2 separate regions of the Homo sapiens genome follow, and region 1 is linked to region 2. Evidence: fine-mapped expression QTL. A gene starts in region 2. The other region holds a variant in brackets. All regions are shown on one strand. Distances are from middle to middle. Region 1 overlaps TCERG1L (transcription elongation regulator 1 like). Region 2 holds the start of TCERG1L (transcription elongation regulator 1 like).

Region 1 (4,386 bases), 110 kb before region 2:
TACTCTTTCCTTCTTGCCTATGTCTCCTTTTTGGAATCAGGATGTTTATCCTATGTGTGTTCCACCATTGTATTTTGGAATCGGATGACTTGCTTGATTTCGCAGGCTCACAGCTGGAGGGAAATTTTCCTCGGAATAAATCACACTTTGGGTCTCACTCATATGATGTTTAAAAGACTCTGCGCTTTTGAGTTGATGCTAGAACAAGTTAAAACGTTTGGAATTACTGAAATGGAATGAATGTATTTTGCGTGTGGGAAGGACTCAAGTTTTGAGGGTCAGAGTAGAATAATATAATTGAATATGTCCCCTCTAAAATTTAGAAGTTAAAACTTAATGGTCATGTGAACACATTAAGAGGTGGGGCCTTTAGGAGTCGCTTAGATCACAAGGGATCCTCCCTGGCAAAGGGGATGGAGGCCCTTATAAAAGAGGCTTCTCGCACGGTTATCTCCCACTTGCCTTTCCCCCTCCTGCCAGTGCTGTGAGGACACAGCCTCCCTCCCCTCGGGCGGATACAGAATCACGGCGCCATCTTGGACGTGGAGGGCAGCTTTTGTGGTCTCATGACCTGTTAAAGGCCGTGCCTCTTGACACCATCACACTGGCAACTAAGTTTCAACACATGAAACGTGGAGGGGACACATTGGAACCATCACAAGAGGTGAAAGAATTCCTGAGAGTCAGGCCCACCACCCGCATAGCTGGCTTTGCCTCCCTGGAAAGTGAGCCCCCAAAACACATCCCACTAAACTCAAACTAAATGAAGCACCTCCCTTCCCCCAGCTGGGTCCTGCCACACCTACAAACACTCCACCACCACCCACAAGGCAGGGACAGCGACAGAGAGGGTCACGCTGGGAACAGACAGCAGCCTTCCTGAGGCCATCGAACATCCGCAGATTTTACACAGACACGTGATCGTGGGAGCACAGCGCCAAGAGTTCCCCGGGGTCTCGTAAGGCGCCAAAAAGGAGGGTCCCAGTACTTCAGTTTCATTCATTCATTATGGACCCGTCACTGCCAATGTAGAATTGTTGCTTTACTTACTATTTTAACAAACGCCACAATCTTAGAAGCTCTTAATAAGCATGATTTAAATGGCTGCAAATAAAAAAATATATAAAAATAAAATAAATCAATGGCTGCCAAATATTTCTACAAAACATGGACTGCAATTTGCTCTGCTGCTGCTGTTGGGCATTTGGACTTCTTTTTTATATTTAATCTCCGAATTTTACACTGCATTCTGTGGGATGTCCTCATGCGTCCTTCTCTGCGGGACTGTAATGACCTTCTAAATGCTCAGCTGTGAGTGAGTTTTTCAGAGCTGCCGGCTTTGCTAAACATGGCTGCTCTTTTACCCCACGTCCACCACCACGCTGTGCTGAAGGCGCATCCATCGACCTTCCTCAGAGACGAGGAAAGAGCCAATGAAAGATGCTAGAAAGCTCTAACAAGTCCCAGGGCCACGTGGGGGTCACGGGGGCTGGTTCTCTCCAGATCCTGTAATGCGTTTCCGATGACTGCTCCTTAGGAAAGGTCCCATGGACAGAACTGCTGGGTTAAACAGACAAACTAATTAAGAGTCTCGATTTATATTAATCCATTTCTTTCCAGAAGCGTTGTACCAAACTGCATGATCACCAGCTGCACGTGAGCCTCCCGACCACATGAAGGAGCACAGAGAACGTACACGCTCAACTGATTGTAACAGCCCACGTTAGAAACAGACTGATGCCCCCAAAGCAAGTAGGTATGCGCATGTCTGCACCGTGGGGTACCACAAAAGCTGGTAAGGCCGGAACTTTTTCGCCGGGCGCGGTGGTTCATGCCTGTAATCCCAACACTTTGGGAGGCCGAGGAGGGCGGATCACCTGAGGTCAGGAGTCCGAGACCAGTCTGCGCAACATGGTGAAACCCCATTACCACTAAAAATACAAAAATGAGCCAGGCGTGGTGGCGAGTGCCTGTAATCCCAGATACAGGGAGACTGAGGCAGGAGAATCCCTTGAACCTGGGAGGCGGAGGTTGCAGTAAGACAAGATCATGCCACTGCACTCCAGCCTGGGTGACAGAGCAAGACTCCATCTCCAAAAAAAAATAAAAATAAAAAACAGATTTTTTCAAGTTCACTACATTTTGGTCTTTAAGGTACACTGCTAAGTAAAACAGTAACGTAGCGGAATTCAAGTCAATAACATCCTCTCCACATTTTCAGGAATCCATAGGCTTGCATGGAATACACTGGAAATATTCTGATTATCTGATTATCAATAGAAGTTTCCAATATGAGAAGAATAGGGTTGGGAGGAGCTTGATTCTATAAGCTTCTAAATTGTTTCCATTTTTAAAATAAAATATGTTCATTTTTTACAGTTTATTTAGAAAAAAGAAACACTTAAATAATTAAGTCTGCCGTCTGTGGAAACGTACACCTCAGTTTTGATTGCTTCATGATTCATATTAACCAGGTGCCATCCTAAGTGGAAGTTTGAGTGAAGAGGTTTATTCTGGTTCACAGATTGTGGGGACAGAAGTCAAAGGTCACGCCGACACC[G/C]ATGTGCTTGATTTATCACACAGCTGCCAGGAATTCCACTTACAAATTCAAGAACCATAGACAACAGCCCTCAAAGCTTTTCAATGACAGCAGTGACGCCTTCTCAGGAGTAGTGACAGTGTTCATGGATATGCGTATACCTGTCTTCAGCCCTCCGAGCTGCGCTCTCTGGGTTACAGAGCACAGCTGGGTGGTAGATGACCTCACTTAAGACTTCCAGTACGTCCCACTGCACTCTCGCATGGGTGACAGAGTGAGACTCCGTCTCAAAAAAAAAAAGACTTCCAGTATGTCACAGTGGTGACCTTCATGGTCTCGTCACTTAAGATCAGCTCACTGTTTAATGAGGCTGATGACAAAAAAGCACCCTAAGACCTCTTTGACCAGACAGCAAACTGCCTCTGGTAGAACATCCAAGCTGGCCCCAATCACAGGTGCTCACGTCTCTATTTTAAGGGAATGCATGCACAGGACTTCTCAGCCTCATGGGAAAACGCCCCCGTCATGTCAACCGTTCACATTCGAAGATGGTGCGTCTCTCCCATGAGGATGAATGTGGGTCACCGCAAACGATTCAGGGACACATCTGCTTCTGGTTTGTGGCCCTGCCATACCGAGTTTCAGAGAGGTTGGAATCCAGAGGCCAGTAGGGGCCGGGAGGTGGGGAAGGCACTCTCCTAACTGCTGCTTCTGCTCACATCCCGCCGGCGAGCGCTAGCCCTGGGGGCAGCCTGGGAAATGTGATGGCAGCCTCCCTAGCCACTTTCCACTTCAGACCTCCTCCAAGTGGGGGGTGGGCATCTTAAGGGGACAGCTGGCTGTCTCCACCGCAACCCAGCTGGGAGGGGAGAGGCGTGATGTCACATTAGGTCACACTAGGGCATGAATACGTGAGTCCCCACAAAACCCCAAAGTAGGAAGCTAAGCCCCAATAGGACGATATGAAGAGGTGAAACCTTTAGGAGATGTGAAGTGATGAGAGCAGAGCCCTCATGGATGGAATGAGCGACCTCATGGAAGGCCCGAAGGGAACCAGCTAGGCCCTCTTAGCCCTTGCTCCCTCCTGCCATGGGAGGACACAGCAAGGAGGCGCCATCTTGGAAGCCTGGTGGCTTAGCACTGGGCCTGGGCCTAGCTAGGGTCTTGGCAGCTCTCATCAGGCACCAGATCTGCTGATGCCTTGGTCCTGGACTTTCCATTCTCCAGACCTGTAAGAAAAGCATTTCTCATCTCTATAAATTGTCTAGTCTAAGAGTATAGAGGAGCGGGAACAGACTGAGACAGGTCACAAACCAGCAAGTGGGCTGGCCCGATGGCCCCACCACAAGCAGGCTCAGGAAACTGGCACCTGCCCCCCCACCCTGCCCCCGCATCTACATGGCCTCCATATGCACAGCTTGAAAATGGGGATGAGGATGAGTCCATCCACCCCAAATGCCAGAAAGCACCTGTCAAAGCCATTTCCCATGTACAGTGGAGAAACTGTCCGTGATGGTGGGTCCTGGCTTCCCAGCAGCGGTGGCCACAGTCACTGTGTGGGCTCCAGTGGGGCACGGAGCCAGCTCAGATCCAAAGGTGTGTGTCCTCAAATCAAAGGACATCTGTCCAGTGTCCTTCCACTAGAGGCTAAAATAAACCAATGAGCCTGCGGGTAAGGGAAGAATGTTTCTTGGGGCAGAAGACTCCCTTCAGGGAGAGGCCCCGATGGCAGTGGACTTGTCCCTCAGCCCCTTCACAGCCTGGCCCCAGGCAGAACAGGTTGGCTGGAGAGAAGAGCCCACCTCTCGGTTTTATGAACAGGCAGAGGAAGGGATCCTTGATGGAGG
Region 2 (4,386 bases):
TCTATGGCAAAAAAAAAAAAAAAAAAAAAAAAACTAAGCATCTTCTAAGTTGAAGATCTCAATACACAGAATAAAACATCAGTCATGGAAAGGGGCTGGTAATTCAGGGCACCGTCTCTCTAATTAAAATAACTGAGACCTCATAAGGCACTAATAAAATGCATTGCTCAATGACATGGAACGTTTCAGTACCTATTGTTTTAAAATCGTAAAAGCATTTGTGATGTTCCTGTTACATGAAAATGTTCTTCTGGTTGTACATATTCTTACTTTACAGAAGCTGGGTAGCACAAAAATATTTAAAAGATTAATGCTAAGGTTTTTTAAATTTTCTTTTAAATTTATATAAGTGAAAAAATGCAGTTTTTTAAAGCAGAATTTAAAAAATGTAGTTCCTTGACATTATATACCTCTAGTGGCAGCACTCTGATATAACACCCCTCCAAAATACGGCAAAAACTACCAACGTTTCTTGAATAAAATCCAAAATAAACTGCATCACACATAAAAATACAATATCCAGTGCTGCATATGTGATGTATCATTAAGTCTAAAGACCAATTTAGCAGGAGTTTAACAACATCTTTTAGAAAAGCTCACAAGATAATATTGGAATTAAATTAATCAAATGGTGTATTCTAACATAACACCCGTTTGAATATGCTAATGAGGTCAATCCTTGGAATAAAATGCACGCTATTCCCTGATTTAAATGCATCTGCATAGTTAGCTGACAATGAATCTTGCCCAAACCAGCCCGCCTAGCTCTGCTGCACCATTTATCAAAGGTTCAGTCACTTTTTCTTTTTAATCCCATGTCTTAAAAGCCAAACTCTAGTTCTAAAGTGCAGTGTGGCATTAGCGAATGTGGTGGACTCCGGCAGGCCTGGGGCAGGGGAATCTCCGGTAACATCCCTCAGTACCGAAGGCAGGATTTCCCGGCCACTTCCGTCGGTTGGAATTCTCTTAAGCATTGCCCTGAGTCTATTTTCAAATGAAAGGGGGAAAAACCCAAACCAGATTAGAATCTGAAACAGCTGAAACAGCTATCGATTTCCAGCTTGCTTTCAAGTCTGGCAGAGACTGTGAAAGTCCTAACTTCTCCGCGATGTCAGCCACGGCCCGCGGCGGTCACGGAGCCACTTCAGCACCTCGCGATGGACAGTGACCCCCGGCGTGGCGCGAGTTCCCTGCGGTCCCCACGCGGGCCTGGGCGGCGGGTCCCTCCACGGCTCCGTCCAGACACCCGGAGGCACCTGCCAAAGCTGCGGAGGTGGACGACCGGGCGTCCAAGCACGAACTTTCTCGCCGAGGCACGGCTGCCGGGCTCCGTCCTGAGGGTTTGGGGCGGCGAGGACCGCCGGGGAGGAGGGCGCGCGAGCCGGAGGCCAGAGCCGGGCCGGGCAGGGCGCGCCCAGGAGCAGGGGAGACGGCGACCCGGGCCGAGGCGGGACGGGGACACGTTACCTGCCCGTGGAGCGCGGGGAAGGGGTGCGCGGCGGCGGCGGCGGCGGAGTCTGGCGCAGAGGGCAGCGGCAGCAGCGGGAGCACCGGCTCGCTCGGGGCCGGCCAGCCGGGGAGACCGGGGAGCAGCGGGGCCGCGGGCGGCGGGGCCGAGGCGAGCAGCACCGGGGGAACCACGACCCCCGCGCTGAGCCGGAGCAGCCCGGCCGAGCCCGGCACCATCCAGACCCAGGGCGGCGGCGGCGGCGGCTCTGCGTCCATCGGCCAGAGGAGAGGCTGCCGCCGCCGGGGCTGCTGCTGCTGCAGCTGCCGCCGCCGCCGCTGGAACCTGGCGCCCGCCTGCATCCTACATCCCCGCGCTGACGGCGGCGGCGGGGGCGGCGGGCGCCCGAGATGCTGGGCCGGCGGCGGCGCGGCTCCGGAGCGAACTCACTTGGCTCCGCGGCGCGGCCGCTCGCTCCGCCCCTGCCCCGCGCGGGAAGCTCCTCCTCCTCCCGCCCGCGCCGCCGCCGCCCCCGGACCCGGCCCCCGCCCCGGTCCCCGCCCGCCCGCGCCCCTCCCCGCCGGACCCCGCCCCGCCCTCGCGCTCCCCGGCCCTGGCCGGGGTCTCCTCCCCGCTGCGCCCCTGGACCCGGGCGGCCGCGGAGGACGTGGGTGGGAGAGGGCCGAGGGCGCGCCCGGCTGGGCTCCCGCCGATGCCGGCCCCCTGGTGGCCTCTGGCCCTCTGGGACCCAGCGCACCGCGAGGGAGGCTCCGGGCTCCGCACTCAAGGGCAAGCGGAAGCCGAGGTGGCGGCGCCGGAGCCAGGCATGTCCCGCTGCCCAGCGCGGGGCTGAGGGCGCAGACGGGGACCGCGCGAGCCGCTCTCTACCTGGCCTCCTCGGAGTCCAGGGCGCGGAGGGTACTGGGCTGCGGATCCGGCGCAGGCGGCCCCGGACGCTGCTAGGCGCGGGCGGATTTCTGTTGCACAAATGGGCCAAACAGGTTCGTAAGGCCCCCGCGGGTCCCCTGGCCCGGAAGTTGAGCCGCGGGTGCCTGGTCTGAAGTTCCGCGCCCCACAGTGGCCCGCGGGCCTCGGCGGCTCCTGCCCTACGCCCTCCAAGGCACCAGGCAGGTGGCCCCAGGGCCTTTGCCCACGACACCCCCTGGGTGGGGCAGGACCACCCCTCTGTGAATTCGTCCTGGATGCCCCCAGGCACAGTCTGTACTCCTCCCTCCCCCAGCACACGCGGCCTCTGACGCTGCACGCCGAGCTTCCTGGGACCCAGGACGAACCGGGCTCCAAGGACCCTCGCTCCGCCCGGACCACACGCAGGCAGCGCCGGCCGAGCCGAGCCTGGGTCCGCACTGGCCACGCGCAGCCACCGCCAGACGGCGCTAGCCCTCCCCCGCTGTAGACCCTGCTTCGGAGGCCGCCAGCCTCCTCCCCATCCCGGGTCCACAGCTTCAGTGCAGCCCCTGGCGACGCGCGCTGACAGCTGGGCAGAGACTTCCGTGCGCTGTAAACCCCTTAGGTCGCTAAACCCAGGAAACCCAAGCACAGCTAATGCCAGCGCGAGACCAGTGTTGTTAGAGGCATTTGAAGGGTCTTTCTGGATGCAAAAGGCAGCATTATGATCCATGCATTTAAGAACTTGCATGAAAAACCCTCCCTGACCTGGGTGGGAGAGCAGGCACCCACCCACCCAGCGGCACTGACACGCCTGGTACTCCAAACCCGTGTTCGCATCACCTCCCACCTGTCCACTGCCAACCTCCTGAGATGGCCTAAAGCACCCGAGTGCTTTTAATTTGCGTCTAGGGTTGTTTCCTCATTATCCTGATTTGCTTAATTTCCTCTTGGCCTGGCCTGATTTCTTTTAGATCTGGGCATATGCTGATTTACATAGCTGGCGCCTCCATATTTTCCTCCACGAAAACCAGTTTTCAATTAGCAAGTTTATCTCTCTCTTTGATGCAAAAGTACTGGCATTTTTTTTATTCACCTAAAATCAGAAAGCTCTGCACATTAGAAGGCTGTTACTATTCACTTACACCCTTAATTTATGTGCATATATTAGTATGTGCACATGTGTTATAAATGTGTTAGTTTAATGGTCAGAGCCAGATCAGGATATTGGGGAGGCGTCTCCAGGCAGGCTCACATGCCCCTGCCACCCCCCACCTCCCCCACCGCATAGTCCCTTTTGCACAGGAGATTCTCCTTCCTTCTGCTTGGAGGCAGAGACAGAAGGCCAGGGGTGCTCGTGCCTGGCTTGCATGCTGTTCTCTGCAAAAGCAGGGTTTTGCGTGTGTGGCCCCCAGGTTCCTGGGAAGGTAGGGTTGGCCACAGTCTGTGGGAGCTGTAGCACTCCTTTGGGGAATCCCAGCCCCATCCCCACTGTCCTAGAAAGGGTTCTGCTGAAGTCCGTTTTTGCCAGCACCCCTCCGGGCTTCCTGATGCTCTGAGCTCAGGACCCCTTGAGCCACTACTTGGCTCTGAAGAAGAGCTGGAAAGTCGAAAGCAGCTCTTGACTCAACCACAAAGCGGCCTAAACTCTTGCTATTTCCTGCCACAAGCTTGACTCTCCTTTTGTATGACAATGCTTGGGAGCCCTTTTCTGTACCATTCTGTGTGCTAAATTATGGGAAAACAGCCCTCAACGACGCAGGCACGGCCATTTCCACTAATCGTTGCTAGGGCCAAGGACCCAGCACAGGGCTTCTCCCCCTCCTCCTGGCTCTCATTTCTGTCAGATTCTTTTCAAGGTTTGCCTCTCATCCCGTTTAACCCGGGAACCTTCTACACCCTCATGGATAGGAGAAGCCCCCTCATAGATACACTCATTTCAATGATTGTTTAGAAGGACCGCCTCCATGAACCGGTTCTGCAAATGTCATTTGTACATCTTGAGGATGGTTGAAAGAGCGAAGGCAAAGAAG

Evidence for each region.
Region 1: its variant is fine-mapped to the expression of TCERG1L in thyroid (GTEx, PIP above 0.99).

The regions. Positions count from the first base shown.
Region 1 is chr10:131,200,487-131,204,872 of GRCh38, forward strand. The region is part of intron 4 of TCERG1L (transcription elongation regulator 1 like); the gene reads right to left. It overlaps LOC105378563 (a long non-coding RNA gene), which reads right to left. Exons shown (of 5, transcript XR_946484.1): 4 at 4,033-4,386; 5 at 2,067-3,768. Among named protein-coding and RNA genes, the nearest start is that of TCERG1L-AS1, 110 kb to the left of the region's middle. The variant G/C (reference allele first, on the strand shown) is at 2,561.
Region 2 is chr10:131,309,827-131,314,212 of GRCh38, forward strand. It overlaps TCERG1L (transcription elongation regulator 1 like), which reads right to left and starts at 1,895. Exons shown (of 12, transcript NM_174937.4): 1 at 1,468-1,895. The coding sequence starts at 1,809. It overlaps LOC101927461 (a long non-coding RNA gene), which reads left to right and starts at 2,030. Exons shown (of 3, transcript XR_242763.6): 1 at 2,030-2,448; 2 at 4,308-4,386.